7 linked regions of the Homo sapiens genome follow. The protein of the gene in region 5 purifies or fractionates together with the protein of the main gene of each other region. This does not show direct contact. Each region holds a gene or a part of one and is shown on either strand. Other genes may lie near its edges.

Region 1 (4,075 bases), on a different chromosome or scaffold from region 5:
TGCTTGGACCCCAAACGGTGTCATCCATTCACTGCTTCTCCCATAGGCTCCACCAATCCCATATGCTCCACTATGGCACGACTGCTCCCAATTTTCCCAAATCAAATCCACCCTCCTTGGACTAGGATGTGCCCCTTCTGGGGACATCTTTAAGATGCCCACAAGCAGGGCAGAAGCTCAACATATTTCGAATGCCTGGCATGATGAGGGTTCCATTTGAGACATTACCTACCCATCATCTCGTGGCACAATCTTGTGAGGCAGGTTTTTCCCACTCCACTTTGCATATCAGGATGTCAAGCTCAGAGAAGCAAAGCTACCTGCCCAAGGTCACACAGTAGTAAACACTGGCATTAGGATTTATACTCAAATCTTTCTGATGCCACAAAGGAGGCCACTTTCCATCAATTTCTGGCGAGGCCCTGAGCCAAGTGCTTCCTTTGCATTACTTCACCAAATCCTCATACAACAAATAATAGCATCATCATAATACTACCACTATCCCATCTTACAGGCAAGAAAACATCCGCTGAGCCTCTACCTGGACCACACCCGGGCCAAGCCCTGTACTTGGATCCTGTTTGCCTCACGTGACAACCGGGAAGATGGGTGCTCAGCTAACCCTTGGTTTACGGAGGAGCAAACTGAGGCGAAGTCACTGGTTCAACCACACACAACCGAACGCACATGACTGAATAAGCAATTCCCCTCCCACGCATTACATGGGAAAACAAAAAGCATTTGTAAAGTGCTTGCGGACACATTTTAGCGATTAGTACTATTATGATGAACATTTCGGTACTTGGCAATTACCCCATAAAGTCAGTGCTGCTGCCCCTATTCTCCGGAAGAGCACAATGACGTTCACAGAGTCAGTGGCAGAGACAAGGAACTGTGGCTCTCAATCCTCTGCCACATGTTGGTCTCCTGGGACCACGGCTGGGCCCCTTCACACCTTGAAGCTCCCCTGCCTGTCTCCAGCCTCTCTCTGGTGCCCAGGAGCCCCTGCAGACCTGGGGTCTTCATAGGGCTGGCTGGAATTCCTGCCCCATGGATTCCTAGCTGTGGGCCCTAAGGGGTCTCTGGGCATCCCCCAGCCAGCTACAAAAAGGTGGAAAGGTGAAGGAGCACCAGGGACCTGGGTTCAAATCCCAGCTCTGCCCCTCACTTGCTGTGTGACTTGGGCACATTCTTTTTTTTTTTTTTTTTTTTTTGAGATAGAGTCTCACTCTGTCACCCAGGCTAGAGTGCAATGGTTCCATCTTGGCTCACTGCAACCTCCACCTCCCAGGATCAAATGATTCTCCTGTCTCAGCCTCCTGAGTAGCTGGATTACAGGCATGCACCACCAGGCCCGGCTAACTTTTTTTGTATTTTTAGTAGAAACGGGGTTTTGCCATGTTGGCCAGGCTGGTCTCGAACTCCTGACCTCAGGTGATCCACCTGTCTTGGCGTCCCAAAGTGCTTGGATTACAGGTATGAGCCACTGCGCCTGGCCTGACTTGGGCACATTCTTAATGTCTCTGGGCCCTGGTTTCTGTAATCCGGAAAATGGGTGATGGTGAAGAAGAGATAAGACTGTGTGCAGGTCTTATGAGCAATAAACACCTCATAAATCTTAGTGACTGCAGTGGGTTGAACGGTGTCCTATCCAAAGTTCATGCCCACCTGGAACCTCAGAATGTGACCTTGTTTGGAAATAGGATCTTTGCAGATGGAATTAGCTAAGGATTTTGAGATGAAATCATCTTGGGTCTAGGTTGGGCCCTAAATCCAATGACCAATGTCTTTAGAAGCAGAGGAGAGGACACCGAGAGACACACAGGAAGGAGTGAGGTGAAGATGAAAGCAGAGATGGGTGTGACGCAGCCACAAGGTGAGGAAGAGCAAGGGTTGCTGGCCACTGCCCGTAGCTAGGGAGACAAGGGACAGGCTCTTCCTCAGCCTCTCCAGGAAAAGCCAACCCTGCTGGCTCCTGACTCTAGACTTCTGGCTTCCAGAAGTGGGAGACAATACACGTCTGTTGTTTGAAGCCACCTAGCCTGTGGTCATTTGTTATGGCAGCCACAGAAAACAAACACAACGGGCTGTCCCTGCAGTTGCTCTCCTTGCTACTTCCTGAGACTTGCAGTGTTTCTGACCCTTCACCCCAAGGGGCAGTGGGCAGGAGAAGCTGCCCTCACCAAGGACACTGGGGGGCAGGATCACTGACCCCTCTCACAAGGGGAGAGCTTGGGACCAGAGGGCTTACACAGCTTTTCCAAGGTCACTCGCCAGTGATGAGCCGGCCTGGGACCCAGCTCTCCTGACCCTCAGACCAACACACTCTCCCCCATACCCAGGGACCTCTGTTTCTTTAGGAACCTGAGCTGTGGCCCCTGCTCGGGCCTGGTCACTTGCCCTCCTGGTCCTGCCAGCCGTGGTCTCTGGCCACATATCTGGAACTCTCTGACCCTGCAGAGATTTCCTAGACTGTGAATGACACTTCTAAGGCTTTTACCGTCACTCCCGCTTCCCCCTGCCTCCCGCCGCCTCCATCCAGACTGTCAAGTGAAGACCGGGGTGAAGCCGAAGCCACACTGCCCAGCAGGAGGTCCCAGGAGTTTTCCATAGCATAACCCATTTTTTAAACGGTTTTTTTTTTTTTTTGAGACAGGGTCTCGCTCTGTCATCCAGGCTGGAGTGCAGTGGCACAATCACGGCTCACTGCAGCCTTGACCTCCCGGACTCAAGCGATCCTCCCACCTCAGCCTCCTGCATAGCTGGGACGACAGGAGTATGCCACCACACCCTGCTAATTTTTAAATTTTTTGTAGAGATGGGGTCTTGGAGAGTGCCCTTGGAGCATGGCTCCCAGCTGTCTGCTGAGAAGATGGCCTTGTTTTGGATTTGAGGGTTCATCGGTCCTCAGGAGGGCCTGATTTAGCTGTGCAGGGTGAAGCCAGGGGCTAGGGGTTGGTAGGGGACTGGTGGGGAGAGGAAATGAGTTTCAGTCTCATTCAGTCACCCACTAGGCTGGAGACCTCAGTTTCCCCACGTGTGACAGGTACAGGCAGAACAGCATGGTGTCTAGGCCACCCCCAGCTCTGAGCGCCTATGTGCTCCACCAAGCCCACTCTTAAGCACCTCAGCTCCCCAGGGTGCGGAGTGAAATGGGTGAAAACCCAGGGGTACCTGTGGAAATGTAGCCCCTGGGACCTCCTGATTCATCAAGGTAGGGCCCAGAAATCTGCCCCCATCAGGTGATCTTTAGGTTAATTAATGCATTAATGGGTTTCCTGACCCATACCTGTGGCTGGGCAGGGGGAAGGCAGAGGAGGGCAGTGGGACAGCAGGCGGATGGGCCAGTGTTTCAGGCTCTGCACATAGCATAAGCCACAGGCAGCTTTTCTGACCTCCGATCTGCAAACTAGAGATTTCTTTCCTTTTTTCCCTTTCTGATCTCAGAGTTGGCCAGTTGCAGCAGCAAGGTGCTCACCTGCTCCGGCTCCTGATCCTGATGCCAATCACACCTTCGTGCACAGCCCTCTACAGTGTCCAGGGCTCTCTGGCAGCTGTGGCATAAAACAGGGCAGAGATAGGCCTGCCTGGCCACAGATGAGAAGATTGAGGGCAGAGAGAGGAAGTGACTTGGCCAAGATCACACAGCTGGTCAGGAGCAGGGCTGGGCCCAGGGCTCTCATACTTTCCACCCACAGTCAAACACCTGGGGAAAACCAGGGGCCAACACAGGCCTCTGCTGCTTCTTGTCTGGGGCCTGAGAGCACTTGCAAGAAGCCCAGGTCTCTACAGAACACGGTGTGACCTTGGACAAGTCCCTGTGCCTGGCTGGGCCACAGTTTCCTTTTTATAAACGGTCCCAGCTAGGTGGCCTCAGAAGGCATCTGTCTGCTTTGGCTTTCTAGGCATCAGCAACTCCATAGGGTAAAGGGACGACACAGCGGTCCGGCTGCCTAGGTCAGGGCCACGCCCGCCTGGGGAAGGCTCCTCCGCCTTCACCCATAGGAGATCCTCTTCACTCTTTCTCGGAATCTTGCCACAAAATTCTAAGTTCTTGAGCTATAGGTTCCCAAAA
Region 2 (4,075 bases), on a different chromosome or scaffold from region 5:
CTGGTTTAAATTTGTAGATGTTTTTGACTTATGTTTCAAGAAATTTTAAGCCACTGTCAAGTGTAAGGTGAATCTGAAGAAAGTGAGACTACAAGGAGAAGATGAGCTGCACGTCATTCCCCTCGTCCAGATGAGAGTGAATGAGGTCTAAGATTGGACGTAGTAACATAATGCTGGATGCTAAATGATGCTAAAATGATGGAGCCATTGGGACTTGACAGCTAACTTAATATTGGTATTATGATAGAAAAATCAAGTTAAACATGAAATTGAGGCTTTGAAGATGGTGATACTAATAATATAAATGCAGCCCAAAGGAGGAGGATGCTTGGAGGAAAAAGGAATTTAATTTTGGGAACATTGACTTTTAGCTGTGAATAAGACATTCCCTGGAAGGATGTTGCAAACATCTGGAAACAGAGGATTAGGAGAAATGGAATGAACCTTCAGTGGCTGGAAGGGAAGTTTAGGGGTGTACCCACAGTAGCTGACGGAGGGTGGTGAAGGGAGAGGAAAAAGGAACCAGAAACATAGAAGGCAGCAGTGTGATAGAGTAGCAAGAGAAACGATTTGATGTCAGGTAAAGTGACTTCAAACTCTTGTCCTGCCTCTTCTTAGTTCTGCATCCTATGGCAAGTTAATTAATATTTTTTTCAATATGAATTCCTCATGTACAAAATCTAAATGATAACACTGTAAGGATCACAGAATTGATGTGAAAATTTAAAATAAGTAATGCAAGTAAAGAACTCCTTGTAGATGTTGTGTGGTTCACAAATATTAATGTAGTACCAGTATTATAATATGGGCTGAGTTAAGAGAACCAGGAGAGCTGAAGATTATGGAAACCACAGAAAGAAGAATTTCAAAAAAGATGGAAATGTATACTTTTCTTCCTCCCACACCATGTTCTCACCTGGATACCTCAGGAGATTCCTAACTGGCCCACCTGTCCTGCTACAATCTGTTTTCCACAATGTACCGAGAATGACCTCAAAGGATAATTGGATCTCATCCTTCTCCTGTGCAAAGCCCCCTGACTGCTTGCCTCCCTTTGTACTTAGAATTAATCCTGATTCCTTACCTTAATCTCTAAAATGTAGGCCCTGCTTGCCTTCTCAACCTCATCTCCTGCCATGTTTCCTTGGGCAGCTTGCTCCAGACATTCTGATATGTGTATTCCGTAAATATCTAGATATGTTCCCACCTCCAGACCTTTGCACTCATAACTGTTCTCTGTGGCCAGAACTCCCTCCCTGTGATACTTCTGTATCTGCATTTTTCTTATTCAGATCTCATTTTAATGTTACATCTTTAATGACACCTTTCTTAGCCAACCAGTGTAAAGTAGCATGTACCTCCAAATCCGTATCAGTTTCATCAGTGCCCTTTTGACCACTTTGTTGTTGTTTTTGTATTGGTTGCATGTTTATCTCACTAAAAGACAAGCTTCATGTAAACAAGACTTATCTGTCTTGTTTATGGCTCCAAGTATTATACACAGTCATGCATCAATTCACAGTGGGGATATGTTCTGAGAACAAAGGTGATTAGGGGATTTCATGGTTATGAAACCATCATGGTATGTACTTGCAGAATCCTAGATCATATAGCCTACTACGTACCTAGGTTACGAACCTGTATAGCATGTTACTTTACAGAATACTCTAGGCAGTTATAATGGTAAGGATTTGTGTATCTAAACATAGAAGAGGTACTGTAAAAATATAGTATACAAGATGAAAAATGGCACGCCTGTATAGGGCACTTACCATGAACTGAACTTGCAGGACTAGAAGTTACTCTAGGTAAGTCAGTAACTGAATATGAAGGCCTAGAACATTACTGTACACTACTGTAGACTTTATAAACACTGCACATTTAGGCTATGCTAAATTTCTTTAAACATTTTTTATTTTTCAATAATAAATTAAGCTTAGCTTATTGTAACTTTTTTTTTTTTATTTTTTGCGACAGAGTCTTCCTCTGTCATCTGGGCTGGAGTGCAGTGGTATGATCTCAGCTCACTGCAACCTCTGCCTCCTGGGTTCAAGCAATTCTCCTACCTCAGGCCCCTGAGTAGCTGGATTACAGGCGCATGCCACCACACCAGACTAATTTTTTTATTTTTAGTAGATACGGTGTTTCACCATGTTGGCCAGGCTGGTCTCGAACTCCAGGTTCTCAGGTGATCACCTGCCTTGGCCTCCCAAAGTACTGGGTGGGATTACAGGCGTGAACCACCATGCCCAGCCTATCGTAACTTTTTAACTTTATATACTTAAATTTTAAAAAACTTTTTGACTCTTTTGTAGTAAAGAGCTTAAAACACAAACTCATTGTATAGCTGTACAAATATATTTGGTTTCTTTATATCCTTTTTCTATTAAGCTTTTTTTGTATTTAATTTTTTTTTAAGTTTTAAACTTTTTTGCTTAAAACAAAGACACAAACATACACATTACCCTAGGCCTACAGAGGGTCAGGATCATAAGTATCACTGTCTCCCACCTCCATATCTTGTCCCACTGGAAGGTCTTCAGGGACAGTAATACCCATGGAGCTGTCATCTTGTATAATAATAATGCCTTCTTCTGGAAGACCTCCTGAAGGACCTGCCTGAGGTGGTTTTACAGTTAACTTTTAAAACATATAAGCAGAAGGAATATACTTTAAGACTAAAAATATGGTATAGTAAATACATAAACCAGCAACATAGTCATTGATTATTATTACTAAGTAGTATACAGTATACATAATTGTACATGCTATACTTTTATATGACTGGCAGTGTGCAATCGGTTGGTTTACACCAACATTGCCACAAACATGTGAGTAATGTGTTACTATGATACCACTTGGGGACTGGAATTTTTTAGCTCCATTGTAATCTTATGGGACCACTGTCATATGTGGGTCCATTGTGGACCAAAACATTGTAATGTGACACATACATATATCTATCTATACATACATATATATATACGTATATATACATGCATATATCTATATACATATATATATACACATATATACACGCATATATCTATATACATATATATATATACACATATATATACACACACACCTATTGGATTGATCAGCTATTTCTTGGAGATCCTCAGGGAGTAAGTTTGAATAGTGATGAGATGTAAACCAAATTGTGAGGGATTAGGTAGTAACTGGGTATTTGGGATGTGGAGTTACTAAGTGCACACAGGTTTTTTTTTTTCAAGTTTAGAGATAAAGAGGAAATTAGATACTTGTGTAAAGGAATATTGAAGATAAATAAGGAATTTGAAAAGCTTGTGAGATTTGAGCTTTATTAAGAATTTATTTAGGGCAGTGTATTTTTTCAAGTACACTCCATTGAACACCTGTGTCAGAATCCTTTGGAAGGTCTTCAAAATGCAGATTCCTGGCCCTCACTATCTACTCAATCCCAGAGGGTGGGGTCCAGGAATCAGTGTTTTAAACAGTCATGTCTAAGTGAGTTTTATGTACATTGTGATTTGATAATAACTCTTTTTTTTAATTATTATTATACTTTAAGTTTTAGGGTACATGTGCACAATGTGCAGGTTTGTTACATATGTATACATGTGCCATGCTGGTGCGCTGCACCCACTAACTCGTTATCTAGCATTAGGTATATCTCCCAATGCTATCCCTCCCCCCTCCCCCCACCCCACAACAGTCCCCAGAGTGTGATGTTCCCCTTCCTGTGTCCATGTGTTCTCATTGTTCAATTCCCACCTATGAGTGAGAATATGCGGTGTTTGGTTTTTTGTTCTTGTGAGAGTTTACTGAGAATGATGGTTTCCAATTTCATCCATGTCCCTACAAAGGACATGAACTCACCATTTTTTATGGCTGCATAGTATTCCATGGTGTATATGTGCCACATTTTCTTAATCCAGTCTATCATTGTTGGACATTTGGGTTGGTTCCAAGTCTTTGCTATTGTGAATAATGCCACAATAAATATATGTGTGCATGTGTCTTTAGAGCAGCATGATTTATAATCCTTTGGGTATATACCCAGTAATGGGATGGCTGGGTCAAATGGTATTTC
Region 3 (4,075 bases), on a different chromosome or scaffold from region 5:
ATTAGCAAAACCACTATAGTACCATTCAAACCATGTCTGGAACTCTGCAATCACAACATTAATAAAATATATTGCTATATACATTACAAATAAACCAAAACCTAAAAAGTAAGGATCATGATTTTTATTCTAGGTAAATTTTATCTGTTTCATGCTTGTATTTCTTGACTTTAATTTCTTCAATCTCTTATCATTATTTTTACCACTAACCCCATAGCATATCAATGATAGTTCCATTTTTCTTGAAAGGGGATTCAAGCAAAAAAAAAAAAAATTATAGTTCCAGGAGGATTTTTTTTATGGAACAAAGTATTATAGTATCATTTCCCAAATTTCATTTAACTGAACACTTTATCTTCAGCTGATGTTAATGTTTTCGTTTATCTCAGGGAACAATAAAGAATGTTGCATTTTAAAAAGCTTACTTTCTGAATTACTACCAAACCCCAAAACAAGGACAAATTAGAAGGGGCCAAATGTCTCTAAAAGTATTTCTCATTGTTTATATTTCATCATATTAAAATCTAGAATGTTTTCTTCTGCCTTCCAGTTTTATCCAGTAAAATAAATCCAATACTGCTTACTTTCTTGTAGCCTTAATAATTCATGTGCAATGATAAGACAAAACTATCAAGATTCATAAACACTCATCAATAACTATATCACTATCATCTTAATGAAAATGAACTTCATTTTACCCAAATTCAAAAAGATACTAAGACATAAATCAGAATGCTCACTAGAAGATTAGAAAATGTGATGTAGACACTCACCTACATAATGCATATTAAGAGCCAAATACTTATACTGGAAAAGAGGGTTATTACTAAGGCTACTTCTTTGGATCTGCTGGAAAAAGGAGCTGACATCCCATCTGTACAGGACATCCAACAGCATGATGCTTGGCACCCTCAGGGCCACATTTAACACTGCCTCCAGTTTCTCCTTTGCAGCCATGTTGTTTTTTTTTTTCTTTTTTTTTTTCTTGGAGAAGACCTAAAATTCAGAAGACACAATATATAAAAATAAAAAGTCAACACAAATCGCTTTTAGATACCCTTTCACGAATCTAATAGGTTGTCACACACTGTACAAAACTATGTGAGAACGTATACTACTTCTCAGCCACAACTACTATTTTTAGATATTCATAAAATAACCTCTGTATTGTGTTTTCACATTGACCCATTCAGTTCTGTCCAATCTTATAATTCTGATTAAATGTTCTGGCCTCAAAACTAATTTTTTAAAAGGCCACTAACTCCAAATCTAGGAACAAAACACTCTGTAAGACTACTGTAACTTGTATAAAATTAACTTGAAAAATTCACTCACTCCAATAAAACTATGATTTATGTAGCTCATAAGAGGGTGAATTTTGAATATTTACTCTATGAAAAAGCCTAAGCAATTCAATAAAAACTTGATAACTGCACGTTTAGTTTGCAGCATCTTGTACTCTATGCTTTTCCTTATTCACTTACAATCAAAATTGAAGTGCTAAATTTACAATCCAGAGAACTCATGATGTAGATACAGGTAGAGGGAACATTATTTACAATATCATTTCCTTGAATCTTTAAAGTTAAATATGGTCTAAAATTCCCATAATCTGCCTTCAAGTGTTCATCAAATTCTTCCCTTGATACACAGATAAGCAGGCACATGGAAGACGCCAGGCATTGAGTCTGCAGCCCCTGTCTCTGCACAGACCATGATAAGTAGTGGGGGGGGGCAGGGGGAGGAGGAAATGAAAGGCAGTTATCAGGACAATTTACTATTTAAAGGGACAATTCAATGCCATACTGCTTTATATGGTAGAACTTCAAATTAATCCAAAAAAATATAAAATAGGGCAAACAAGGCCGGGCGCAGTGGCACACGCCTGTAATCCCAGCACTTTGGGAAGCCGAAGCAGGCAGATCATGAGGTCACGAGTTCGAGACCAGCCTAGCCAATATGGTGAAACTCCGTCTGTACTAAAAATACAAAAATTAGCCGGGCATGGTGGTGCACACCTGTAGTCCCAGCTACTCAGGAGGCTAGGGCAGAAGAATTGCTTGAACCTGGGATGCAGAGGTTGCAGTGAGCAGAGATCACAATACTGCACTCCAGCCTAGGCAACTGAGCTAGACTCCGTCTCAAAAAAAAAAAAAAAAAAAAAAAAGCAAACAAAAGTGGGTAAAGAACAATTTAAAGAGTAAAGATAATTCTGGATTGTTGGCTCTGACAATATCCTTTTAAGAATTTTGCTGAGAAAGCTAAACACATTTCCAGCTTTAGCAGTAATTTCAGACATTACAGGACAAACGAAAACATTTATTTCTGCAGAAAATTATAGTGACAGATTGCTATGCTATGGTTAAATATTTGTCAGTATTTCCATCTTACCCTCCAATTTTCATAGCTTCCTAGTTCAGATAGTCAAAAAGCTAAAGGCAACCCAACTTGGCACACTATCAATAAAAGCTTTTCAATAATCATATATCAACCATTCCCATAACCCAAATGTTTTATATATATAGCCTGCCAATAATATAGATTTAACATTTTTATAGATAAGTACTGCAATTCTGATTATTTCACATGAACAAGATCATTTTCATAATTTTCCTACATAAGAAAAAATATTATTGTGAAAATCAGAACTAAATATCATGTCCTAAGAAGGAAAAATGCACTGAAAAATAAAATCTCTAACCTTTAATATTTATTGCAAACCAACCACTGAGGAATCTAAATTTCTCAAAGCCCATGATATTATTATTTTTTCTAATCCCAGGAAAAAATACACCAAAACATTCACAGAAATTGTTGGTAAAGAGTTTAATGCATTTTAATGTGTATAAGCCATCTAGATAACTTCAGGAATTACAGTGGAAAGACTTACTTTGGTGAGCAAACTGATAACCCAATACCCTCTTGGGAATTTATTTCAAAGTAATATTGAATAGATCTTCTCACAAACCACCAGCCACCATATTTGAAAATCACCACGTACTGAGATGACAGTATTACTGACAGTCTTTATACTGCCATCGAAAAGTAACTATTTTTCTATATTCTGGAATCCAATATAAATCATTACTCTGTTTTTATAAGTAACAAGAGAGGGAGGAGCTATTACTGATTTAACACTTGTAGCCCATATTTATTTCATTTGATTTGGAACCTTTCTCTTTTTTCAATGCTTTGCTATTTTAAAATGTGCCCATTTTCACCATTTACTGTGGCTCCTAAACGGGTAAAGAAGAAAATTTAAACTAAACAAATAACTAATCCTGCTTTAGAAATCAAGATCTGCTAGGGAAGAAAAACTCCCTAATCCGTACAGAGGATCATCTCTATTACAAAAGTCCATTAGCAGAATGGTACATGTTCCCTCTTTATTTCCACCCACCACTCCTGCCTAACAAATATAATAAGAAACAGAAAACAGGACACATTTCTATTTCTATAAAGAGAAAATACCGGGTCCCGAAAGCTGTCAATAAAAAACAATATCCAAGATCCCCCTCTACTACATAGTCAACTCGAGACTGAAATGTTTTTAACAAGGACTTTGGATAGAATTAAATACGCCCAAATAAACGAAACTAAATGTTGCATTTATTTCTATACGTGAATGTTATTTTAGCAAGTCAGTGGCAAGCTGGTCATGTATAAAGGCACTGACGAAACAAATTTAATACATGGAAAATCAAAGAGAAAAAAATTTCAAAACCTTATCACTTTGAACCCTTCTAAAGTAAAAGAGCACATGATAGTTATCAATACAAATAGGTACTTTACACTACACTTTAGCACCACACACTAAACCAACATCAAAACAAAACTTTAAAATATTCATCTTCTTTGCAAGTACTTGCAATTACTCACACCTGCCAAATCACTATATCATACAAACACGAAGTAAAATGGAGCCTTCTCTCCTGATCTAGAGAATACCTTTATAATGTTGCCTAATTTATCCTGTTCCAGATTTATTGTCAAACAGGGCTAATCAGCATATCCTAAAGTACAGGGGAGCTCAATATTCTCTTGAAAACAAAATAATACCAAATAATCCTAGAAA
Region 4 (4,075 bases), on a different chromosome or scaffold from region 5:
CAACTTTATCCAACACCAGGCACGGTCATCCACCAGGCATCCAATCTCAACTTCATCCAACACCAATCTCAACTTCATCCAACACCAGACACACTCATCCACCAGGCATCCAACCTCAACTTCATCCAACACCAGACACACTCGTCCACCAGGCATCCAATCTCAACTTCATCCAAACCAATCTCAACTTCATCCAACACCAGACACACTCATCCACCAGGCATCCAATCTCAACTCATCCAACACCAGACACGCTCATCCACCAGGCATCCAATCTCAACTCATCCAACGCCAGGCACACTCATTGACCAGGCATCCAATCTCAACTTCATCCAACACCAGACATACTCATCCACCAGGCATCCAATCTCAACTTCATCCAATACCAGGCACACTCATCCACCAGGCATCCAATCTCAACTCCATCCAACACCAGACACACTGATCCACCAGGCATCCAATCTCAACTTCATCCAACACCAAGCACGCTCATCCAATCTCAACTCATCCAACACAAGGCATGCTCACCCAATCTCAACTTATCCAACACCAGGCACGCTCATCCACCAGGCATCCAATCTCAACTTCATCCAACACCAGGCACACTCGTCCCCCAGGCATGCATTCAGGGCCCCGAGTCCTGGCCCTGCCTGTCCCCACAGCAGCTTCAGACAGGTCGTGTGCTCGTGGCAAGCCTCCAACACCCTCCAGCAACACTGTCCGGCAGGTAATTAGGGCTTGCAGGAATATCCTGGCAGCACCAAGAACCTATCTTCCCTCTGACATCCACAGGAAACAGCCCTGGCAGAGTTCCCACTGTGAGGTGTGTGCCGGCTCTCTGGGAGGGAGTGTGGGGCTGGCACTGTGTAGTGGGGCCGCAGGTTACATACCAATTCTGGCTTTCCTTTTAGGGTTTCCATACCAAGGTCCAAACTCTCTTTAGGGGAGCTACTAGCCGCTCTACTTTTTCGTCCCGTCTTTGCTTCGTGCTTGTTTTGGCGGCCCTGAGTGGCAGTGTGTCACTCCTGGCTGGTAACTGCGTGCACCCTGCCAAACTCAGCCAGGGTGAGGTTAAAGCAGCGCTCAGTTTAGAAGACAGAAAAGTTTTGCTAATGGAGGCAGAAGTGTTAACATAAGTTAAAACATTTCTGCAAGCCCCTAGGGTGACAATGCCTTTTAATAAGCAGGTTTAAATTTTGTCCTTTAGGAGTCCATTTCTTAAGCTTCTTTTGGTCTCTACAAAAGTCGGTACTCGGCCGGGCACGGTGGCTCACGCCTGTAATCCCAGCACTTTGGGAGGTTGAGGCAGGTGGATCACAAGGTCAGGAGATCAAGACCATCCTGGCCAACGTGGTGAAATCCCATGTCTACTAAAAATACAAAAATTAGCCGGGCATGGTGGCGCATGCCTATAATCCCAGCTACTCAGGAGGCCAAGGCAAGAGAATCGCTTGAACACCGGAGGCAAGTGAGCCAAGATCGTGCCACTGCACTCCACCCTGGCGACAAAGCGAGACTCCGTCTCAAAAAAAAAAAAAAAAAAAAAAAAAAAAAAGTGGGTATTCATTAACAATATCACAGCCCAGAGCTCTGCAGCCTCGCAGATGGAGAATGACTTCCCAACCAGCTTTTCTGTGTCTATGACTGAGCACAGGGAGCCCATGGAGTACCCCCATGGAGCAGGACTGACCTGTCTCCAGGCTCTAAGCCCAGCAGCCCCAACACTCTGTGTGCACATGGTCAGCCTCCTGTAACCCACTCCTTCTGAGCCTCATGCCAGCTGTACACAAACTGTAATGCCAAATGAGGTGCACTTTTCCAGATTTTAGCCTAAAAGTGTAACACAGCCACCAAAAAAACTCCCAAACCCAACCCCCACCTTACAAACCAAAACCAAACTACTGTGAACCACCAGGCAAGGGGGTGCTGGCTCCAGGGCAGGTGGCGCAGCCTCGGCCCCGACCCACTCCCACCCCAACCTGGGAGTCCGTGCACCTTCATCTTCCGGAGCCGGGACTTGTTGTCATGGCACCAGGCCAGGCAGGTGGCCGTCTCACGCCTCTCCAGGGACTCCTCCACCTCTTTGGCCGTCAGGAACATCTCAATATTCACTAGGTCCTTAGAGGAAGGAAGCAGCACCTGATCAGAATGTGCTGGCTCAAGGCCCCCATGCCACCCTCCCACACCCCAGCCTCCATGAGGCAGGCCCAGCACCGGCCACCACTCGAGATGCATCTCCAGTCCACACTGTGGGTCTGCACTCGTGGACTACTCAGGGCCGCTCTGAGATCCTAGGAACAGAACAGCCCCCAAGGACCAAAAGGTCGGACGCTCACGTAGACAGCAGCCATAGCCGGGCAAGGGAGCCAGGCTGGCCCCACCTGTCCATGGAGAGGAGCTGCTGAGACACACATGCAGGCAGGGCCAGGCCACATGCCAGGCGGCCCTGTCTCCACTCCCCACAGCCCCCCAGCACATCTACAGGCCCTCCCTGGGCAGCCCCCTCATTTCAAAATCAACAGTAAGCAAATAATAACATGCTAAATAATACATAAACACATTATGGCTAATATCGCGGTAGTTACAACCAATGATTTATATGAAAGCAAAGAAAAAAAAAAAAAACAACAAAAAAAACAGAGTAACCCAGGCTTAGCATCAAGTCTCCGCTAGTGGCCGGGCACAGGGGGTGGGTGCTCAGTGCCTAGCAGTGGAACCCATGGTCTCTGGCAGGGGCAGGACAGCAGCTGGTACGGGACTCCACCAGGCACGGCAAGGCTTGGGGCAAGCGCTCAGGTGGTCCTCAGCAGCAATGACTCCCGACCTTCCCCAGTGGGACCAAGGACGGCACCTCCGCCTGCACATAGCCCAGGACCCAACGGCCCAGGATGAGGCCACAGTTCACCACTTGGGTCCCACAGCCCCACGTCTGGACCACCGGCCTCACAGATGCGCTGTTTTCTTTGATGATTACTCTTTTCTGAAACCCCTCATAACGTTGTTTTCTTGCACCTTTTCTTTCATGATTTCTTGTTTCTGAAACCCCTTCATAGCATTTTCTTGCATGTTTGCTTTGATGATTTCTCTTTTCTGAAACCCCTCACAGTGTTGTTTCCTTGCATCTTTTCTTTAACGGTTTCTCGTTTCTGAAACCCCTTCATAGCGTTTTCTTGCATGTTTGCTTTGATGATATCTTTTTTAAAGCCCCTTCATAGCGTTTTCTTGCACGTTTGCTTTGATGATTTCTTTTCTGAAGCCCCTTCATAGCGTTTTCTTGCACATTTGCTTTGATGATTTCTTTTCTGAAGCCCCTTCATAGCGTTTTCTTGCATGTTGATTATTCTTTTCTGAAGCCCCTTCAAAGCATTTTCTTGCATGTGTGCTTTTGTTTGTTTTTTTGAGACGGAGTCTCGCTCTGCCGCCCAGGCTGGAGTGCAGTGGCGCAATCTCCACTCACTGCAAGCTCCGCCTCCTGGGTTCACACCATTCTCCTGCCTTGGCCTCCCGGGTAGCTGGGACTACAGGCGCCTGCCACCACGCCCGGCTAAATTTTTGTATTTTTAGTAGAGACAGGGTTTCACCGTGTTAGCCAGGATGGTCTCGATCTCCTGAACTCGTGATCTGCCCACCTTGGCCTCCCAGAGTGCTGGGATTACAGGCGTGAGCCACCGTGCCCGGCCTCTTGCATGTTTGCTTTGATGATTTCTTTTCTGAAGCCCCTTCATAGCGTTTTCTTGCATGTTCGCTTTGATGATTTCTTTTCTGAAGCCCCTTCATAGCGTCTTCTTGCATGTTCATGTTGATGATTTCTTTTCTGAAACCCCTTCATAGTGTCTTCTTGCACGTTTGCTTTGATTATTTCTTTTCTGATGCCCCTCCATAGCGTTTTCTTGCACGTTTGCTTTGATTTCTTTTCTGAAGCCCCTTCATAGCATTTTCTTGCAGGTTTGCTTTGATGATTTCTTTTCTGAAGCCCCTTCATAGCGTTTTCTTGCATGTTTGCTTTGATGATTTCTTTTCTGAAGCCCCTTCATAGCGTTTTCTTGCATATTTGCTTTGATAATTTCTTTCTAAA
Region 5 (3,809 bases):
GTCTCCATGGAGTGTGGAGGTCTGGGTCCTCCCTGGGCTAGTGGATGGCCAGAGCAGTATACACACTCGGCTCAGCTGAACGTCCCCTTTCCTGGGAGGAAGAAGGCTTCATTATTTTCTGTTTGAGGGTAAGCTGTGCAGCTGGGCATAGGACACATCCTGGGGATATTCATATGAAGAAGAATGAAATTGAACCCTTATCCCATATACAAAAATGGGTGGGAGAAAAGCTTCAAGACGTTGGTCCGGGCAAGGTTTTTTTGGATATGGCCCTGAAAACACAAGCAACAAAAGCAAAAATAGACAAAAGGTGTGGCTTCTAAACAGCTTCTGCAAACAGAATGAAGAGACAACTCAGAAATGGGAGAAAATAGTTGCAAGCTGTATACCTGATAAAGGGTTAATATGCAAAAATATGTAAGGAACTAAAACAAAGCAACAGCAAGAAACCAAAAACTACTTGAAACATGGGCAAAGTAGCTGAACAGGCATTTCTCAAAAGAAGACATACAAATGGTCAGCAGCTATATGAAAAGGTGCTCAGACAAAAGCTTTGTCTATTGAGATGATAATTTTTCATTCCTTTTGTTAAAATACTGAATTACATTGATTGAGTTTTTGAAAATTAAGCTATCCTTGCTTTTCATAAACAAAATCAAAGGATAACAAAAAACCAGTGTGGTCATGATATACTGTCTATTTTATAGAGACATGAATCTTACTTGTTAATATTTGTTAAGGGATTTATATTTCTGTGAGAGATCTTCTATGACTTTCCCATTCTGTAGTTTCCTTTTCAGGTTTTGGTATCAACTTGTTCCTAGTCTGATCAAATGTATTTGTGTAAATATATACAAAATATTCTCAGGGAAAATTTATGCAAGTTTGTGTGTGTGTGTGTCTGTGTGTTTCATGAGTGCATAAGAGTTTGAAAAAACCACCAACAAACCTTGCTGAAGTGGCATTTACTTTGTGGGAACATTTTTGATTACAGGATCAATGCATTTTATATATGTTTATGTATGATGATTCAGTTTTTCTATTTATCCTTATGTTCATTAAGTAAACTGTAATTTTTCGTATTTCATCTATCTCATCTACATTTTCTGTTATGTCAGCATAGAATTGCTGACAGTTTTCTTTCACCTCTGTAAAGCTGTGTGTAGGGTCTGTAGTGCTGCCTCCTATTTTGTTCCTGTATGGAAATGGATGCCTGCTCTTTTTTCATTTTTATTTTTCTCATTGTGGCCAAGATTCATGTATCATTAATGTTTTCAAGAATAAACATTTTGACTTTATTAATTTTTCTCTATTTTTTGTTTGTCCTCATTAGAAGCTCCCATTTTCCCATGTCATTGGTTTGATGTGTAATATTTACATGATCATTCAATTTAAAACATTGTCTGACTTCTGTTTTGTTTTATCAGTTAACTCATTGTGAATTGAGAGGTCTGCTACTTTATTTTGATAATGCAGGGATATTATTTATCTTTGCAGAATCAGGTGACTCCCAACGTTCCCGGAATCTTCTAGTGGTCTGTGTCAGGGGTCTGGGCTGGCTGGGGTTCAGTGATGTCTACTGGAGGCAGCTTCCATGCCTTCTGGGGTCCTGAGTCTCCATGGCTTGTGGGGTCTGGGTCCCCCCTGGATTAGTGGATGGCCAGAGTGGCATAGACACTGGGCTCAGCTGGAGAGGCCCCTTCCTGGGATGGAGGAGGCTCAGTTGCCTTCTGTCTGAGGGTAAAGCTGTGCAGCCGGGCGTAGGTCACATCCTGGGGGGCTTCAGATGCAGCAGCCTGCAGCGGGGGAGAGTGAGAGGGAAGGAACGTGGTGGGGGTGGGGGAGGCCTGGGGGCCTGGAGAGGAAAGGACTCACCTCAGTGTCCATCTGTCTGTCCTCTTCTGCCTGTCTGTCCTTTGTGTCCAGGAATTCCCCAGACAGTGGGGAGGGAGGAGAGGCCATTTCTCTCCTAGGTCTGGAGTGTTTCACCTTGGCATACGTCACTGCCTGGGGGTCTTCATCGTGTGGGCTCTGCTGGAGAGAGACAGTGGTGGGGGGTGTCCTTGAATCCTCCTGACTCCCTGGAGTCAATTTTCCCCACTGTTCCCAGGGTGATCCGATTACATCCCTTTCCTGACGGAATCTCAGGGATGCCCTAAGGCCGTGGAGGGTCTGGCCGCTCCCTCCCTGTGGTTCTGGTCTCTGCTCCTCACTCTGACCTTGCCCATTTGGCTGCAGCCTCACGCGGCCTTCCTGCAAGAGCTCGCTGCTGCCTCGGGGCCTTTGCACGGCTGTTTCCTCTGCCTGCAGGGGCTCGTCCATTAGAGGATCACGTGGCCCTCTCCGTCCAGGCTTCTCAGATGACAGCTGAGCAGACAGCCCTCCCTTTCCATTCAGACTGGCCCCACTGCCCCACACTCTCTGCCCTTTACCTGGTTTATGTTCCTTACAGCACGTTGCACTCCTGGACACGATGCATTTATTTGCATTTTGTCTCCCACCACGAGGTGAGCTCAGGAGGCGGGGGCGGCTTTGCTCCCTGCTGTGTCTGCAGCTCCCATGGGGAGCCCCATCCACAGTGAGCTCCCTGGGAACACTCACTAGATGAATGAATGAAGGGGAGCCCAGGGGACTGGAGTGGTTCATTTATTCGTCATCCTCCTGAGGCCTGGGGAGCTCTCTAACAACCAGATGGCCAAACAGAGGATGAGGAGCAGGAAGGGGACCCGGGAGGAGGCCCATGAGGTCCCAGGACAGCAGGAGAGAGTGAGGTCCCAGCAGGCAGGAGGCAGCGTGCTGGACAAGGAGGGGTCCACCGTGACGATGCTGAGAGCCGGGGGAAGGAGGACAGAGAAGTCCTGCAGGATTAGATCTGGCACCAGGAGGCCTTTGGTGCCGGGGACAGGGGCGGGTTCTCACCCGAGTGTCCATTTCCACCCCGTCCTCAGGCTGTGTGTTCTTCACGGCAGCACCTGCTGGGGTAGAGCAAGGGGTTCATCTCCTGGGAAGGTTCCCTGGGACCTCTCATTCCTGCTGGTCCCTGCCCTGTTCCCATTAGTGCCACTGCAACGCAGGGAGGGGCTGTGATGTCCCCGAGGTCCCACAATGTGGGTTCAGACCACTTCTCCCTGAGTCCCTGACCAATCCTAGCCTGTGCTCCTGCCCCCATTGCTATTGAAATTTTGGGACCCCCAGCTCCACCCCAGGTGCACCTTCTCTGCCTCTCACTCACAGAAGTTTTCTCCCTGGACGTCAGCAGCTGGGCTGGACCTGGGGGAGGATACGGGAGTGTAAGGGGACAGTGAGGTGGCTGTTGGGATGGGTGGGAGTCTGAGGTCTTTGGGCAGAATTACCTCCTCTGTAGGCCCCCGTCCTTGGGCTCTGGCTCGGCAGCCCCTGGAGGACGTTGGAAATCAGCCTGTCTCTGGGCTGGGGGAAGATGGACAGAGTCTCAGCTCTGGGAACGTTAGAACCACCTGCCTTGCACATGCAAGTCAAGAGGAAAGGAAACCTGAAAATACACTTGCAAGGATGTTTTAAATACTTTCTAAGTTTAGAAAAACCGAAAGAATAAAGCACTTCCATTACTCCCTCATTCATTTTCTTCTTTCTAGATTTTCTCACTGGGAATTTCTGGAGCAGAGTTTCTAAGATGACCTCTCCTATCTGGAGTCCCTTTGGCTGGTGCCCTGAGCCCACCCTCCATCAGCCCACGGGTCCCCCAATTTCCTACTTACCCAATGTCCTGTGTTTTCCCTGACGCCAGTGTTGGAGGAGGAGGAAGAGGAGGAGGGAGAGAAGCAGGATGG
Region 6 (4,075 bases), on a different chromosome or scaffold from region 5:
TTTTTAGTAGAGATGGGATTTCACCGTGTTAGCCAGGATGGTCTCAATCTCCTGACCTCGTGATCCGCCTGCCTCGGCCTCCCACAGTGCTGGGATTACAGGCATAAGCCACCACACCTGGCCTTCACTTAGCACTGTTTAGAGAAACAAATGTTCATCAATAGGGAACTGGCTACCCAATCATATTTCTATACAGTAGAATATACTGCAGCTTTAACAAAAAAATAATGAGGGCTGTTTCTGCAGCACAGAAAAAGATCTCCAAAATACATCACTAAGTGAAAACAGCAAAGTACAGAACATTTTTTAGTATGCGACCATTTGTATAAAAAAGGGGAAAATCTATCACCTACCCCAAAAGTTAAGTTAAAGACATGCTTATAAATCTAATCACCAAATCCATAGACACATTAAAAATACTCAAATCAGATACCACCAACTTTGCCAAATGAATAGTTAAGAAATTTATTTAGTTCTAAATCTAGCTACATTTTTTTAATCCTCATCACTTCTTATCCTCCTACCAAGTTCCAAAACAAAATTTATTTGCTAACATTTTTTAAAAGTCAGACACTTACTTGCTACCATTAAACATTTTATTCAGGGCATCTCTTGATATAATATGACCACAGACCAATTTCATGGGTGGATTGTTATCTGTTGTTTGCTGACGAAGAATGGGGCAGGCAAATATAGAGTGATACCAGCACTTTTTACCAAGGTCCACTTCAATCTGTTAAAAAAAAAAAAAAAAGTAAAAAAGCTGAAGTCATATTTCACAAAACCATCCACATGGTAATATACACTGTGCAGCAAAGAACATTGATCAGATCTATTCACCTGAATGTAACTTTCTATAGCACTCTTCTAACTCAGATGGACAGTCTTAGTGATTCAAAGTGTTAAATTAGCCTTCAAGATTATTTTCAAGAAAGCTGACAAAGTGTAAAAACAAGTCTGACAAACAATGACCTGATCACCACCTCTAATGGCTTTACTGGCTTGACACACAGTCTTTAGGTGAATTCAGATTTCAGTCTGCTCTTAGTGCATGTCAGAGATGCTTACAACATAAATGGGAAACTGCCAGATGCCAGGCACCTGCCTCCACAAAACAAGTGAAGGCTCAAGTTCTTTTCACTTGTTCAAGTTAGCGGCAGTAGAGCAGGAGTGCTACTTGTGTCCTGACCACACTCAGGACCAGGACTGCACCTGTGCCTTTAATCAGAAAAGATCTTTGAGGAGAAGCTGGGGCAACCAACTGACAGGGTTACCTGCTGGAAGAACAAGGTAACTGCAAATAAACCCGTGTACAGGTGTGGTATAAAACGGGCAAAAAAACAAATGCGTATGTTAGCTTTTCAGGGTCTGTGACACAATCATGACAGGAACGACAATTCCAGGCCAGAGCCTCAGTGCCTGTCAGAGACCTGGTGGAAACATACATACAATGACCTTCGCCACTTCACATCATAACTGCACCATGGCAGCCACAATTTGAGTGCCTACCATGTATCCCGTCTTATTCTAAGCATGCTTATGTTATCTCTAGCCTTCAGCAGCCCCATAAAGAGAAAGCTGGTGCTTGTCTTAGAGATGAATACACTACTGCTTAGAGAAGTTCTAGAGTTGGCAAGTGATCGTGCTGATGTTTAAAACCATGGTCCTTTCCATGAGAGCAGTAGAAATACAGTACTAGAGACCCACTGATGACTGCAGGTGTTACGACCTTTAAGAGCTCTATACTTATTCTATTGGCAAATGTAACCAGCACAAACTCGTGATCTTATCGACAGCAATAGTTAAGACAAAAGTAAAACCAATTAAATTTGCGTTTATATTAGAAAAACAATCACAGGAGTGGTCTGTGAACTGCACTGCAGAACACACTGCCTGCTACTGTATGTACAGCCCTCCCCACTTCTGATGTTTCCCTTCACCAGCTTTCAAAGGCACTTCAAGTCAAAATTATAATACTCCTCCTCCAGGGTCCCCAAAATGTACTAGGCTCTTCATTTGTATTGTTTAATCTTTTATATATCCATAAAAGAACTCCTGTCAAATGGCTACAATGTTTCCTGGTTAAAAGGTAAGATGAACATTTAAAGATGCCATATTCTTCTAATGGCAGTAAAAGTAAATAGCCAATAGAAAATGGAACTCACAGGTAATTCATCTTTCTGGTTCCAAACTCCAGTACACTGCCTCTGTTCAATCACGGCTTTGATGTTAATTAAAGCTGGCAGCGCCACACAACCTGCTGAGAAACTGGGAGAGCAGAAGAGGAAACGTCAGTGCCAGGCCAGGGGTCAGGCCGCTTGGTCCAAGGAGACATCAATTTCTCCAGACTCTATGTGCTGCAGACCCTGGCCACTGGACAGGGTGAGAGCTTTCTGTTCTGCTAAAAGTAAATCCAGCCATTTCCACTAGAAGAGAAATAACTTGTTTTCCCTCCCCTTCTTCCCCAGGCCCACTGGTATATTTCCTGAAGTTACTGAAAACCAATCCCAGTTAAAAAACAAAACAAAAAATAAAACTCTAAATTTTCTAAATAAACCTCACCAATATGGGGGTAAATGCAGTTAAAGAACGCAAACGTTAAAAAAAAAAAACTCATCTGCTAGGGTAATTTAACTTTAGCTTACTTCCTCAGAAAATAGAAAAATAAAGTTTTAAAACATGCATTTTAAAAAAGAAAGCAGCTTTGGAGAACCAATTAATTCAAATGAAGAGCAGGAATTAAGAACTACTACACTCTTCCAAATACAGTAGTTTTAGCATCTGAGTTTGAAGGAAAAAGAGATGTTCTTGCACAAAATTCTTCACTCAGCAATATACAAGACATAACTTCCTTTCCTATTCCCTTCCTTACAGACCATATACCACCAGACTTATTTTTCTTACAAAATGTGCTCCAAGGTATACGCTAATTAGAACAATGATACTCAAAATGTGGTCTGCAGATGGTGCTGATTTACACACCATTTTCAATCCACAGGAAAGAAGTACAGAATTGAGAATAAGGTTTTTAGAGAATTTAATAACAGCAGATGGTGGTGGCTCACTCCTGTAATTGCAGCACTTTGGGAGGCCAAGGTGGGAGGATTACCTAAGTTTGAGAGTTTGAGACCAGCCTGGGAAACACAGTGAGACCCCCGTCTCTACAAAAGATATAAAAATTAGCCATTAGCCAGGTATGGTAGCATGTGCCTAGAGTCCCAGCTACTGAGCAGGCTGAGGTGGGAGGATGCCAGGAGGTTGAGGCTGCAGTGAGCCACGATCGTGCCACTGCACTCCAACCTGGGCAACAGAATGAGACCCTGTTTCAAAAAGTAAAATATAAAGAATTTCATAATAATCTTACATTAGTGCCAAAAAAGGTTTTATATTGCACAAAACAACTGGATTTAATGGGCTCAGCTTATCAGTCAAATGACATGCTTGCTCCTGAAACATTTTTTTTGCATAGTTCCTCTTATCCCCAGATCACCCCTGTCCAGGGTGGAAGCACTCATTTCTCAGATCTGGAAGTGTTGGCAGCCAACTCTCAGCTGTGTCCGTCTCTTCAGGACTGTCCTCAGTTGAAGAGAGTCATCTGACCAGAGTCACATCCAGCAATTGCTCCATGTGAGGGTACAAAACCCCAGCCCTATAGGCCCAATTTGGGACAACTCCACGGGCCCACAGCAGCTCCAGAGCTCCTCACGGATGGGAGACACCTTGTTGCCACTCTAATACAGTCCAACTTTCCTCTCTGCCCAATCCTGCTGTTTTCATTCTCCCACAGGTGCTGATGTCAGTAAACTTTCTGCATGTACATTCCCACTTTAGAGTCTTCCTCAGAGAACTTGATGGCATCAGCGCCTCACATTATAGCTAATTGCATCTGTCCACTCCTACGCTAGGATGGAGCACCCTGTGGAATGCACCTTATTCATCTTCATATCCAACACAGTGCCCACAGTGCCTGGCACATAGCAGGTATGCAAAACATTTGTGGAATTAAATGAATAGAAGAGCTAAAAAAGAGTTATTTTCTTACAACAGTTTCTTAAAATGTTTTGGTTTCAGGACC
Region 7 (4,075 bases), on a different chromosome or scaffold from region 5:
AAGACTACTTAGGAAGCTGTATTTAAAAAGTCCCTGTGTGGGCTGATTAGTTCTCAGACTCTACAGTATTTTGAGTAAACTCAAACTCATGTTAAAAAGAAAAATGGCCTTGAACTAGAACTTTGAGGGGAAAGTTATAAATGGATAAACAGGAACTTATTTCCCTTGAGAAGTGTTTTTGGGTAGTGAATGTCAGCATGCTTGGAGTGGGGAAGAAACTGAAGTTGAGTGTATATGAGAAGTGAACTAACTGCATAGAGGTGATTTTTTTTTTATTAGAAATTAAGGAAATTTAAAAGATGTAAATGGCATGTGTTCTGATAAGTTAAAACAAATATCCCAATTAATTTTTTTATTAATGCAATGCACTTTCAAAATTTAGAAACTCTTGTTTGTGTTATAATTTAAAATATTTTTCAAAGTAAAAATAACTATTCTTCACCCTTATTCTCCCCCACACCCCTGTTTCTCTCTCAGATGCAACCACTTTTAAAACCTGTAGCTGATTCTTCTAGTGTTTATTACCATATTTTAAAATAAAATTTTACACTAATTTTCTTGAATTATCATTTTTAAATATTCAATTCTTGTTTTTTAACTAACATAATTTATCTACATTGTCCCAGTGTAATTAAATCATAATTTTTTGTTAAATTAGTAATCATTGTTTACCTTTTAACCATGTGGTGTCTATGTACTTCAGAACCAAGTAATGTACAGTATTTCTTTTCTTTTTCTTTTTTTTTTTTTCTTGAGACAGAGTCTCACTCTGTTGCCCAGGCTGGAGTGCCTTGGCATCATCTCAGCTCACTGCAACCTTTGCCTCCCGGGTTCAAGCTATTCTCCCACCTCAGTCTCCCAAGTAGCTGGGATTACAGGTGCCTGCCACCATGCCTAGCTAATTTTTTGTATTTTTAGTAGAGATGGGATTTCACCATGTTGGCCAGGCTGGTCTCGAGCTCCCGACCTCAGGTGATCCACCTGCCTCGGCCTCCCAAAGTGCTGGGACAGTATTTCATTTTTTGTGCAGCTTGCCCTACTGGAATAAATGATTGCTTTTTAAAAAATAGATTGCATAGTTTTCTATGTACATACCCTTAATTTCTTTGCAGATATTCCATCATATCTGCCATATACCTATCCTGCATTTTTGTTTTTCCCATTGGATCCTCTACATTCCTATCCAGTCTGGATTCATTCTCCAGGCCTTTTGTAGACTTACTATGTGGGGAATTTCCCCATGTAAAAAAAGAAATTTCCTCATTTACTTCACGGGGGTGTGTCTTTCCAGAAATTCCTGAGAAAGGATGCCTGATAAGTCCTGTCACATCCAAAAAGTTTTTCTACCCACTTTTTTTTTTTTTTTTTTTTAGAGACAGAGTCTCACTCTGTTTCCCAGGCTGGAGTGCAGTGGCACAAGCTCAGCTCACTGGAACCTCCACCTCCCTGGTTCTAGCAATTCTCCTGCCTCAGCCTCCTGAGTAGCTGGGACTACAGGTGCACAACGCCACGCCCAGCGAATTTTGTAGTATTTTAGTAGAGACAGGGTTTCACCGTGTTGCCCGGGCTGGTGTCAAAACTCCTGAGCTCAGGCAATCCACCTGCCTTGGCCTCCCAAAGTGCTAGGATTGTAGGCATGAGCCACCGCGCCCGGCATCTACCCACTCTTAAAAGTTTGGTTAGCTTATTGTGTTCTAGCTTCATGGGTTGCAGTTTTAAAATTCAACCCTCTTCTTTCTCCTAATCTTTTAAATGTAAATTGTTTTAATTTTGGAAGCTATTGGAGTCTCTTCTTTTTCTATTTTGTTCTGATTTCATGATGATGTGCCTTGGTATAGATTTGTTTTTCTTTTTTGATAAAGACAGGGTCTTTCTCTATCACCCAGGTGAAAAAGGAGTGCAGTCACACAGTCATAGCTCACTGTAGGCACCTAATCCTGGGCTCAAGCTGTCCTCCCACCTTCGCCTCCCAAAGTGCTGCAATTACAGGAATGATTATTCTTTACTTATTATGCTAGGCATTATGTGGGCCCTTTCAAGCTAGAGGCCTCTATCCTTGGGAGCTTTTTGAAATACTCTTACATTATTAAATATTTCTTTGAAAAATTTTTTTGTCTCTTTTAGGAGTTTCTATCAGTTGATTAGTCTGCCTGGGTTCATCCTTTATTCCTTTATCTTATCTGTTTCTTATTTTTATCATTTAGTTTTGTTTTATTTTCCTTTGCAGGAGGTTTTCTCAACTTTCTCTTTTAAATTCTAAGTCCTTTTTTTTTTTTTTTTTTTTTTGGTGGGGGATGGAGTCTTGCTCTGTTGCCCAGGCTAGATAGAGTGCAATGGTCCAATCTTGGCTCACTGCAATCTCCACCTCCTGGGTTCAAGCGATTCTCCTGCCTCAACCTCCCAAGTAGCTGGGATTAGAGATGCACGCCACCACGCCTGGCTACTTTTTGTATTTTTAATAGTGACAGGGTTTTGCAATGTTGGCCAGGCTGGTCTCAAATTCCTGACCTCAAGTGATCCACCCACCTCCACCTCCACCTCCCAAAGTGCTGGGATTACAGGCGTGAACCACCGCGCCCAGCCAGGTGTCACATTTTTAATTTCCGAGGTTTTTCTTTTGTTTTCTTACTGATGTTGTCTTTTAGCATACTGTTGTTGGTTTGTTTTTTTTTTTATAGACAGACTTTTTTCTCTTAAGTGTAATTTTGAAGTTTTCTTTTGTTGCATTAGTTCTGTTTTCTTCAGGTTCCTTATTGCTATTTGTTTTAGCTCTCTTTAATAGTCAAAGTTTTCTTCAGAAGGCAGGTGTCTACTCACATTTTCAAGTAAGGTGCAAAAGAAATAATTGGAAATGTATTGCCTAGTGGGACTAGTCTACTATCTTTTGCCCTGCATGTATGTTCTTGACAGACTAACATTCTAGAAATAGGGTAGAGCTGTGGGCAAGGGTTAAATTGTTCCTTTTGTAGACTTTTGGTTAACTCCTGTGTCTAGCTTAAGGCCAAAACCTTACCCATTACTGTAATTTAAATCCTTAATTCCTGAGACTTTCCAGAAATACACCACTTGGTTCTTACCTTGCTGAGTGAGAGGGAGAAAGAACTACCACTGATGCATTAAGAAAGTAATTATCTATAGTCTAATTGGAAATTTGCTGTCTTGCTATTTCATCTGAGTAGAATTAAGTATAAAATGAATTAAAGGCCTAATTTTTGCTTGGGTCGCTCAGATAATAAGACTGCAGGACGTTAAGCTTTCAAGATTCATATAAATAATTTTAGAATTATTTTGTTAATAAAAATATATCAATACCTATGAAAAGGAAAAAATAAAAATATACATATAAAGTTAGATATATATGTTTGGATGCTATATTGATTGCCAAGTTTCGTTAAAAAAAATTCCATTCTTAATTTACTAGCTTTCAGAAATAAAATGATTCTTTTAATTTTTACTGTAAATTTTGAATTTATGTTAAAATCCAAACTAAATATTTTATAAATAATATCTTTTAATTGAAAACATCCCAGTGATAATGCTTACTGCTTTGGCAATTATGAGCCTCCATTTGTTAGAAACACCATCCGAATGTCTTGGTGTCCTTGACAAAGGAACTATATAGAAGGGCTATACTAGCCATTGCTTGAACATAATAAACACGTTTTCTCTCGACATATTTCAGATTTGTCTTGTTTCTTGAGACTATTCTGCATTCATTCTGAACTCTTTTTTAGACCAAAGAGGTCTAAATACATGATGGATGAAAAGATAGGAAAGAGAAGGCAATCAGTCAGTTCTGTTAAGTTTTAAGTTTTTCATTGAAAATATTTTTGTGTGGTAGAAATACAGAATTGTCCTTTTCCATTACAACTTGTCTGATATTTGTAAATGCTTGTTTCTTTTAGGAATCACAGTGCATTGATAACAAGTGTAGTCCCTGGGGATTATGATGGAGATTCTCAAATGGATGTCCTTCTGACATATCTTCCCAAAAATTATGCCAAGAGTGAATTAGGAGCTGTTATCTTCTGGGGACAAAATCAAACATTAGGTGAATTTGTTTTAAAAATTTTTA

What was found.
Region 1: the proteins of LILRB4 (region 5) and ATP2B2 purify together in Homo sapiens (affinity purification with mass spectrometry; 2 studies listed by BioGRID and IntAct, with this or other methods). This does not show direct contact.
Region 2: the proteins of LILRB4 (region 5) and C10orf88 purify together in Homo sapiens (affinity purification with mass spectrometry; 2 studies listed by BioGRID and IntAct, with this or other methods). This does not show direct contact.
Region 3: the proteins of LILRB4 (region 5) and RNF145 purify together in Homo sapiens (affinity purification with mass spectrometry; one large-scale study listed by BioGRID and IntAct). This does not show direct contact.
Region 4: the proteins of LILRB4 (region 5) and MAEA purify together in Homo sapiens (affinity purification with mass spectrometry; one large-scale study listed by BioGRID and IntAct). This does not show direct contact.
Region 6: the proteins of LILRB4 (region 5) and RMND5A purify together in Homo sapiens (affinity purification with mass spectrometry; one large-scale study listed by BioGRID and IntAct). This does not show direct contact.
Region 7: the proteins of LILRB4 (region 5) and ITFG1 purify together in Homo sapiens (affinity purification with mass spectrometry; one large-scale study listed by BioGRID and IntAct). This does not show direct contact.

The regions. Positions count from the first base shown.
Region 1 is NC_000003.12:10,498,740-10,502,814, forward strand, and holds part of ATP2B2 (plasma membrane calcium-transporting ATPase 2), read right to left. Parts: intron 1-4,075. UniProt on the Homo sapiens protein: ATP-driven Ca(2+) ion pump involved in the maintenance of basal intracellular Ca(2+) levels in specialized cells of cerebellar circuit and vestibular and cochlear systems.
Region 2 is NC_000010.11:122,943,991-122,948,065, reverse strand, and holds part of C10orf88 (ATPase PAAT), read left to right. Parts: intron 1-4,075. UniProt on the Homo sapiens protein: ATPase that regulates mitochondrial ABC transporters ABCB7, ABCB8/MITOSUR and ABCB10. Regulates mitochondrial ferric concentration and heme biosynthesis and plays a role in the maintenance of mitochondrial homeostasis and cell survival.
Region 3 is NC_000005.10:159,202,661-159,206,735, forward strand, and holds part of RNF145 (RING finger protein 145), read right to left. Parts: intron 997-4,075; coding exon of another isoform or gene 958-996; coding exon 774-957; intron 1-773. UniProt on the Homo sapiens protein: E3 ubiquitin ligase that catalyzes the direct transfer of ubiquitin from E2 ubiquitin-conjugating enzyme to a specific substrate.
Region 4 is NC_000004.12:1,320,424-1,324,498, reverse strand, and holds part of MAEA (E3 ubiquitin-protein transferase MAEA), read right to left. Parts: intron 2,119-4,075; coding exon 1,996-2,118; intron 1-1,995.
Region 5 is NC_000019.10:54,665,860-54,669,668, reverse strand, and holds the end of LILRB4 (leukocyte immunoglobulin-like receptor subfamily B member 4 isoform 1 precursor), read right to left. Parts: coding exon 3,738-3,809; intron 3,430-3,737; coding exon 3,354-3,429; intron 3,271-3,353; coding exon 3,233-3,270; coding exon of another isoform or gene 3,225-3,232; exon of another isoform or gene 3,213-3,224; intron 2,976-3,212; coding exon of another isoform or gene 2,973-2,975; coding exon 2,920-2,972; intron 2,035-2,919; coding exon 1,876-2,034; intron 1,797-1,875; coding exon 1,650-1,796; 3' UTR 951-1,649; downstream 1-950. UniProt on the Homo sapiens protein: Inhibitory receptor involved in the down-regulation of the immune response and the development of immune tolerance. Receptor for FN1. Receptor for apolipoprotein APOE. Receptor for ALCAM/CD166.
Region 6 is NC_000002.12:86,768,216-86,772,290, reverse strand, and holds part of RMND5A (E3 ubiquitin-protein transferase RMND5A), read right to left. Parts: intron 2,269-4,075; coding exon 2,166-2,268; intron 734-2,165; coding exon 579-733; intron 1-578.
Region 7 is NC_000016.10:47,453,989-47,458,063, reverse strand, and holds part of ITFG1 (T-cell immunomodulatory protein isoform 1 precursor), read left to right. Parts: intron 1-3,905; coding exon 3,906-4,051; intron 4,052-4,075. UniProt on the Homo sapiens protein: Modulator of T-cell function. Has a protective effect in graft versus host disease model.